2 linked regions of the Homo sapiens genome follow. The protein of the gene in region 1 interacts with the protein of each later gene in a pairwise test. Each region holds a gene or a part of one and is shown on either strand. Other genes may lie near its edges.

What was found. The genes of interacting proteins can lie anywhere in the genome.
Region 2: the proteins of OGDH (region 1) and PLSCR1 interact in a two-hybrid assay, tested with the Homo sapiens proteins (one large-scale study listed by BioGRID and IntAct).

What each region holds. Positions count from the first base shown.
Region 1 is NC_000007.14:44,672,554-44,676,126, forward strand, and holds part of OGDH (2-oxoglutarate dehydrogenase complex component E1 isoform 1 precursor), read left to right. Parts: intron 1-1,233; coding exon 1,234-1,388; intron 1,389-1,857; coding exon 1,858-2,004; intron 2,005-2,624; coding exon 2,625-2,715; intron 2,716-3,416; coding exon 3,417-3,573. UniProt on the Homo sapiens protein: 2-oxoglutarate dehydrogenase (E1o) component of the 2-oxoglutarate dehydrogenase complex (OGDHC). Participates in the first step, rate limiting for the overall conversion of 2-oxoglutarate to succinyl-CoA and CO(2) catalyzed by the whole OGDHC.
Region 2 is NC_000003.12:146,534,545-146,538,117, forward strand, and holds part of PLSCR1 (phospholipid scramblase 1), read right to left. Parts: intron 3,501-3,573; exon of another isoform or gene 3,452-3,500; intron 2,022-3,451; coding exon of another isoform or gene 2,009-2,021; coding exon 1,996-2,008; intron 1-1,995. UniProt on the Homo sapiens protein: Catalyzes calcium-induced ATP-independent rapid bidirectional and non-specific movement of phospholipids (lipid scrambling or lipid flip-flop) between the inner and outer leaflet of the plasma membrane resulting in collapse of the phospholipid asymmetry which leads to phosphatidylserine externalization on the cell surface.

The sequences.
Region 1 (3,573 bases):
TCCTCCAGGGCAGCTGTGCAGGTCGAGTTTTGGGCCTCTGCAGGAGTACCAGGATGAGGGCAGCCCGAGAGGGATTTCTTTTTGTTTTTTGTTTTTTTTTTTTTTTTGAGATGGAGTCTCACTCTATCGCCCAGGCTGGAGTGCAGTGGCATGATCTTGGCTCACTGCAACCTCCGCCTCCTGGGTTCAAGCGATTCTCCTGCGTCAGCCTCCTGAGTGGCTGGGATAACAGGCACATGCCACCATACCTGGCTAATTTTTGTATTTTTAGTAGAGACGGGGTTTCACCATATTGGTCAGGCTGGTCTCAAACTCCTGACCTTGTGATCTGCCTGCCTCAGCCTCCCAAAGTGCTGGGATTACAGGCGTGAGCCACCGCGCCTGGCCCCGAGATGGACTTCTAAGAGCCTGGTGCCTCCTCTCGCTCCTGGCACCTCTCCTCTTCCTGAATTCCTCCCTGCCGAGCTCTGCAGATCTGGATGCTGCTTCCTCACCCAGCTGTGCAGTGTGAACGTGGTACAGGACATCTTGATCTGCTCAGGATCCTGACTTTTGTCTTATGGGCAATCTTGCTTCCTGAGGCAGAAGGATCATTTGAGCCCAGGAGTTCAAGACCAGCCTGGGTAACATAGTGAGACCTCATCTCTCCAAAAAATTCAAAACATGAGGCAAGAAGATCACTTGAGCTCAAGAGGTTGAGGCTGCAACGGGCTCTGATAGCGCTACTGCACTCCCGCCTCGATGACAGAGACCCTGCCTCAAAAAAATAAATAAATAAATAAATAATTTTTAAAACCTGCAAATCTTTAACAGCCATTGAGCCTATGACACCCTATGGGCATTTCCTGTCATGGGTGCTGGTACAGGTCTGACCTTGATGACAGCCTGTCTTCCCTGGGGAAGGACCCAGTTCCACAACTGTTGCGGTCTGTGCTTCTTGCCACAAAGGTAACAGAGTAGAACTGGGGTTGTCCCTTGGCCTGCCCTTGGAAGGCTAGGAGGTTCTCTGTGTACAAGTGACCCAGGTCCCTGAAGGAAGCACTTCATGACCCTATGAAGAGGGCTTCTGCCTGGCACCCACTCCATCCCATCCTCAGTCACACTTGATTGGAGTACATTTCAGAACAAGCCTCCTGCTTATCCCCTCCTTCTGGCTGAATGGGCAGTCGGCAGTCTTCATTCAGCCAGGCCTGGTTAGAAATCCCCTTGACTGTGTGTTTCTGTATGGAATAGATGGCCTACTGCCAGCATATTGGGGTGGAGTTCATGTTCATCAATGACCTGGAGCAGTGCCAGTGGATCCGGCAGAAGTTTGAGACCCCTGGGATCATGCAGTTCACAAATGAGGAGAAACGGACCCTGCTGGCCAGGCTTGTGCGGTCCACCAGGTATGGGTCTGGCCCTGGGCCATGGGGCAGACATTCCCAGGGAAGCAGTGACCCTGTCTGTGTTGATCGGGCCTGTGTGCAGCCTGTTGGCCGAGGTGAGAGGGGGTTTGGGGTGGTACAGGCAAAGCTCCATCTGCACATGTGTGAAGAGACACCAGACAAGTAGAGTCAGCCTTCAGAGCAACCTCCGCCTCCTGAATTCAAGTGATTCTCTTGCCTCAGCCTCCTGAGTAGCAGGGATTACAGAGGCACACCACCACGGCTGGCTAATTTTTATATTTTTAGTAGAGATGAGGTTTCACCGTGTTGGCCAGGCTGGTCTCGAACTCCTGACCTCAGCTGATCTGCCCACCTCGGCCTCCCAAGGTGCTGGGATTACAGGTGTGAGCCTCCATGCCTGGCCAGAATCCCCTCTTTTTGGTCAGGAAGAGTGACATTGCCCTTCAAGGTGGCTTGGTTCCCTGTCCAGGTTTGAGGAGTTCCTACAGCGGAAGTGGTCCTCTGAGAAGCGCTTTGGTCTAGAAGGCTGCGAGGTACTGATCCCTGCCCTCAAGACCATCATTGACAAGTCTAGTGAGAATGGCGTGGACTACGTGATCATGGGCATGCCACACAGGTACAGCCAAGGGCGCGCCCAACCTGGTTTCTCACCATCCCTGTGGGCTGTGTAGGAGGCACCAGGTAAAGGCACTGAGAGAGCAGCTGTTTCCTCCTTGAGTGCCAGTTGTGAGTCTGGGCTCATCTGGTACCTGAGGGTGTATTGCTTTGCAGGGGATTCTCACATTGCCTGCCTCTGGAGGACTGCAAAGTCATGGTCACCTCCAAAGCCACATGTAGTTTCAGACTGGCATTTGGCCTTACAGTGCATCTTTATGAAAATTAAACCCAAGTTCCCTTGTTGGGGTCTAACCTGGAGGGAAGGCTGCTTCCTGACATTGAAGGGGAGGCCAAGACTGTGAAAATAGGGAAGGTGTGGGGAGGGAGAAGGGTAAGGAAGCCTCAGGCCCATGGCATTGCTGCATCTTCTATCTTTCTGCTGCCCACTGTGGCCTTGATTGCCCAGCACGGAGAGGCTCGGTTCCCACATTAGCTCCAGTTTACAGCTATCCTTGGGCTGCAAACCGAGGAGGTGCCGTGTCCTGGGGGGAGGGGGAGGGGGGGATTGTAACACCCTCATCTGCCATCTGGAAACCATGACCTCAGGCTCTGCTCACCCTACTCGCCCATACGTTCCAGAGGGCGGCTGAACGTGCTTGCAAATGTCATCAGGAAGGAGCTGGAACAGATCTTCTGTCAATTCGATTCAAAGCTGGAGGCAGCTGATGAGGTGAGGCACCTGCATAGAGACACATCCAGCATAGCCCCAACTTACACAAGACCCCTGGCTCCACTTCTTTCTTAGAATGACTTACGGGGGGTTGGTTCTTCTGTACCATTTGTGATTTGCCTTCCTTGTTGGGAGAATTTTAGTGTTGGGACAAAGGTGGCCAGTGGCCCACCTCCTGGTCAGAGGTCCAGCAGCCCCACTCTGAGTGCAGGGGTGTGTCCCCTCTGGCTGAGGGACGTTCTCCTTATGCCCTGGATGGGAATGATCCTGGGAAAAGGCCTCCATATCCTTCTGCGTTGGGTTCCTGGGAGTAGAAATCCCATATAAGGCTGGGCATGGTGGCTCACATCCGTAACCCCAACACTTTGGGAGGCTGAGGCAGGCGGATCACGTGAGGTCGAGAGTTTGAGACCAGCCTGACCAACATGGAGAAACCCCATCTCTACTAAAAATACAAAATTAGCCGGGCGTGGTGGCGCATGCCTGTAATCCCAGCTACTCGGGAGGCTGAGGCAGGAGAATCGCTTGAACCCAGAAAGTGGAGGTTGCAGTGAGCCGAGATCGCGCCATTGCACTCCAACCTGGGCAACAAGAGCGAAACTCCATCTCAAAAAAAAAAAAAAAATTCCCGTATAAAAGGGCTCTTTTGGAGACTGAGCATCTCCTTGGCCAGGGTGCAAATTCACTGTTTACCCCATCAGGGCTCCGGAGATGTGAAGTACCACCTGGGCATGTATCACCGCAGGATCAATCGTGTCACCGACAGGAACATTACCTTGTCCTTGGTGGCCAACCCTTCCCACCTTGAGGCCGCTGACCCCGTGGTGATGGGCAAGACCAAAGCCGAACAGTTTTACT
Region 2 (3,573 bases), on another chromosome or scaffold:
ATTGGATTGTTTCCCCCACCCCCTGCCCCGGCCTTTCTCCTTCATAAATAGCTTCATGATGACTTCAGCGGAATCCAGTCCATGGTGATTGTGTAAAATCAGGCAAAAAAACCGCTCTCCTACTCGTTCAAGACTAGCCTGGCCAACAAAATGAAACCCCATCTCTACTAAAAATACAAAAATTAGCCAGGCATGGTGGCACGCGCCTGTAGTCCCAGCAACTCAGGAGGCTGAGGCAGGAGAATCACTTAAACCCGGGAGGCGGAGGTTGCAGTGAGCCGAGATCGTGCCACTGCACTCCAGCCTGGGCGACAGAGCGAGACTCCATCTCAAATAAATAAATAAATAAATAAATAACACAAAACAACAACAAAAAACAAATGAGGACTTTTCCCTGGACAAACATTGCAACATACCTTGTGATTTGTGAATCATCACAAATCTCTGAAACTCCCCATCATTCTTTCCCATCCATTCTCTTCTATTTCTCAGCATCAAGTGACTGACCTAACTCCCTAGTTCTCTAGCTAATAAGGCCCTGCCTGCAGCCCCTACTCCCAAATTAAGTTGGAAACACAGCATCAGACTCAGAATAGATTTCAAGAAAATATTTTGCAAGTCTGAAGTAAAGATCTACCCTTGACAGGTATGTCACATTGTGATACCTCTTAATAAGCAACATTGTTTGAATACTATAACATAGAACACACACACACACACATATACAGGAACAGACAGACTCAAGAAATCATGAGCTCACAATCTCTGGGCTTTTGGTACCAAAGCAATGATTCTGATTTCAGGCATTCCAGGGGGAATTCATACAAGGAGAATGAGTGAATGGGCAGGTGTTCAAGCAGAACAAAGAGCATGTTAATTATGGTTTGATTACTGCGTTTTTGAAATGCAACTTAAAATGGCTTATAAGAAGTACAAGTCTATCACATTGTCTTAAAGGTACTTTTTTTTATGTCTACATGTATGTATATATACATATTTACACATTTATTCACACACATATACACATTTTATTTCTATTTATGCAAATACATTCATACATACATACAATTATATATACAAAACTGAAGAGTTAAAAGTTGCCTATGACCATCACCAGATACATTTTTGTAAATTGAGTGGAATCAACTTAAAGTCTGTGGCAAATAAACCAGTATAATTCTATATAAATTTACATTTAAAAAGCTTTGAGTTTTGTAAGTAAAAAGAAAATCATAAAACTTCACATGGGAAAAGCAAGGAGTCTAGTCCTGGAGATTATTTCATATATCTAATAAGGGTGACACTGTAGTGACAGATAAATATTTTTTTGTTACCTCAACAAAGATGAAAGAGAGAATAAAGAAAAGCGTTTCAGAAAAACAGGATTTAATTTTTGAATTTAATTTTCCCTATGTAGTGGGAATTTTGAACATAATTTTCCCTCTGTTCTTCAGAACCTTGATATCTTAATAAGACAGTCTTTTATTACTTGCTTGATAAATATCCATCTTACTTAGAATTTTCTTGAGAGAAAAAAAGCCAGAACATAATGACTGGTATTTACTTAAAATACAAACATGTGTCTGTGATGAAATATACATTGAGGTGTGTATCTGAGGAGTTTATTACAATGAACTCAAATCTTATTATCTGTTAATTAGTATGACTTGAATAATCTTTATACATATAAAATACACAAAGAGAATATTGTTGTGGTTTAAATATATGTTACAGAACATATTTCCCAATAAATCTAGCATTTCTTAGCTTTCCAAAAGGCTTTCGTATTTTTAATGAAGAACCTAGTGATAGTGCTATTTTTGTACATCTTCTCTATAGTCAAAATACTGAACTAGACATTGTATTCTGGAGCATAAACAACAGAAAACAAATTATACACTTTCAGACACTGAATAAAACATTATGACAAATAACAAGTTACCAACAGATTAACATTATAAGGAGGAAAGTAAACATTTAAAATAAATTACTTACTTTGTTTGTCCATGATTAAAACAGTTCTGAAAAAGAAGATCTGACATTAACACACTGTCTACAAGGCCACAAGTCAAATATAACAGTTGAATCGGGATACTCTAAAACTACACAGTCACATTCATAGGATATTCCTCTTTATTCATCCAGCCCAGCCTTATCTGGTCATTTAAGCCCTTTGTGCTTGACTGCATTCCCCTTGCTGTGTTTCTGAGTAGGAATTTAGAAATTGTTGGTCAGCTCATGATGGTGAACACATTCTAAAGCCTTTTGGGAAGAGGGTCCAGTGAGGCAGAAAGCCATAAAGACACACTATGAGCTAAGACTCCAAGTAGTAACCAAGCTAATAACATCAACCTTCACAACTTGAACAATCTAAAGGAAATGCTTGGTTCAGTTCCCAGTCTTTGGACTGGAAATGCTTGGCCCAGTCTCTGGGCCCCAGGAATGTTCCAGCAGGAAAGCAAAAAATGTTAATTATCAGGTCACACTACTGCAATTATCTTGGGAAATGTAGGTCTTGTGGACCTGTTCTTTGCAAATTTGAGAAGGCCTGAGACGACTCCGTGCATTCAGAGATTTTTTTTTTTTTTTAACCAGAAAACCCACTCTCAGGAGTTGTCACAGCCATAGCACCTTGACCACCCAAGTGAAACTTTGTACTCGGTATTTATACAGAAACATAAATTGCAGCAAACATTCTACTCAATATTTCTGCCTTCCAGTGCCTTGATCCGATCCTAGTTTTTCCCACTACTATCCTGTCACTACTTTTTCCATCTCCTGTAGATCCCGATGCCCTTCATCCCTTTTAGCGACAATGCATTAGGCAAAACTCTGCTACCCAACATTTTTATCTTGGACCCACACACACTAACACAAACTGCCCATCCCCTTCCCAGGCCCACTCCAGTGCTGGCTACCCTTTAAATTATCTTACTGTGCAATCCTAAGTGGTTAATAAGTCAAGTGATCCCTCTACATGCTCAACTAAAATCAAGACTTCCCAAGAAGAAACCGCCTTCCTCCTTGCTGTTTCAGAATTATTTTTTGGCCAGGGATGGTGGCTTATGCCTATAATGCCAGTATTTTGGGAAGCTGAGGCAGGAGGATCACTTGAGTCCAGAAGTTTGAGATCAGCCTGGGCAACATGGACAGACACTGTCTCTACTAAAAAAAAATTAGCCAAGCATGGTGGCATGCGCTTGTAGTCCCAACTACTCGGGAGGTTGAGGTGGGAGGATTGCTTGAGCCTGGAATATTGACGGTCTAATGAAGTATGATGTCATCACTGCATTCCAGCCTGGGTGACAGAGCAAGACTGTGTTTTAAAATAAAGGGTTTTTTTTGTTTGTTTGTTTTGTTTTGATTATTGCCAACTTTAAGCACAAAATTTTATAATCAACTTAAAGTCTTAAGAACATTCCAATTATAGTCAACTCTTAATTATACATACTCAAGAAGTTCAGCAATGGTTGAATAATTCAAAATGGGTTTATGTGGTCCTGAAATAAATCAAAAGATGTGTTTGTGTTACTAACTTCCCAGATTTTCTTAGGACAATAGGAATCTCAGTTT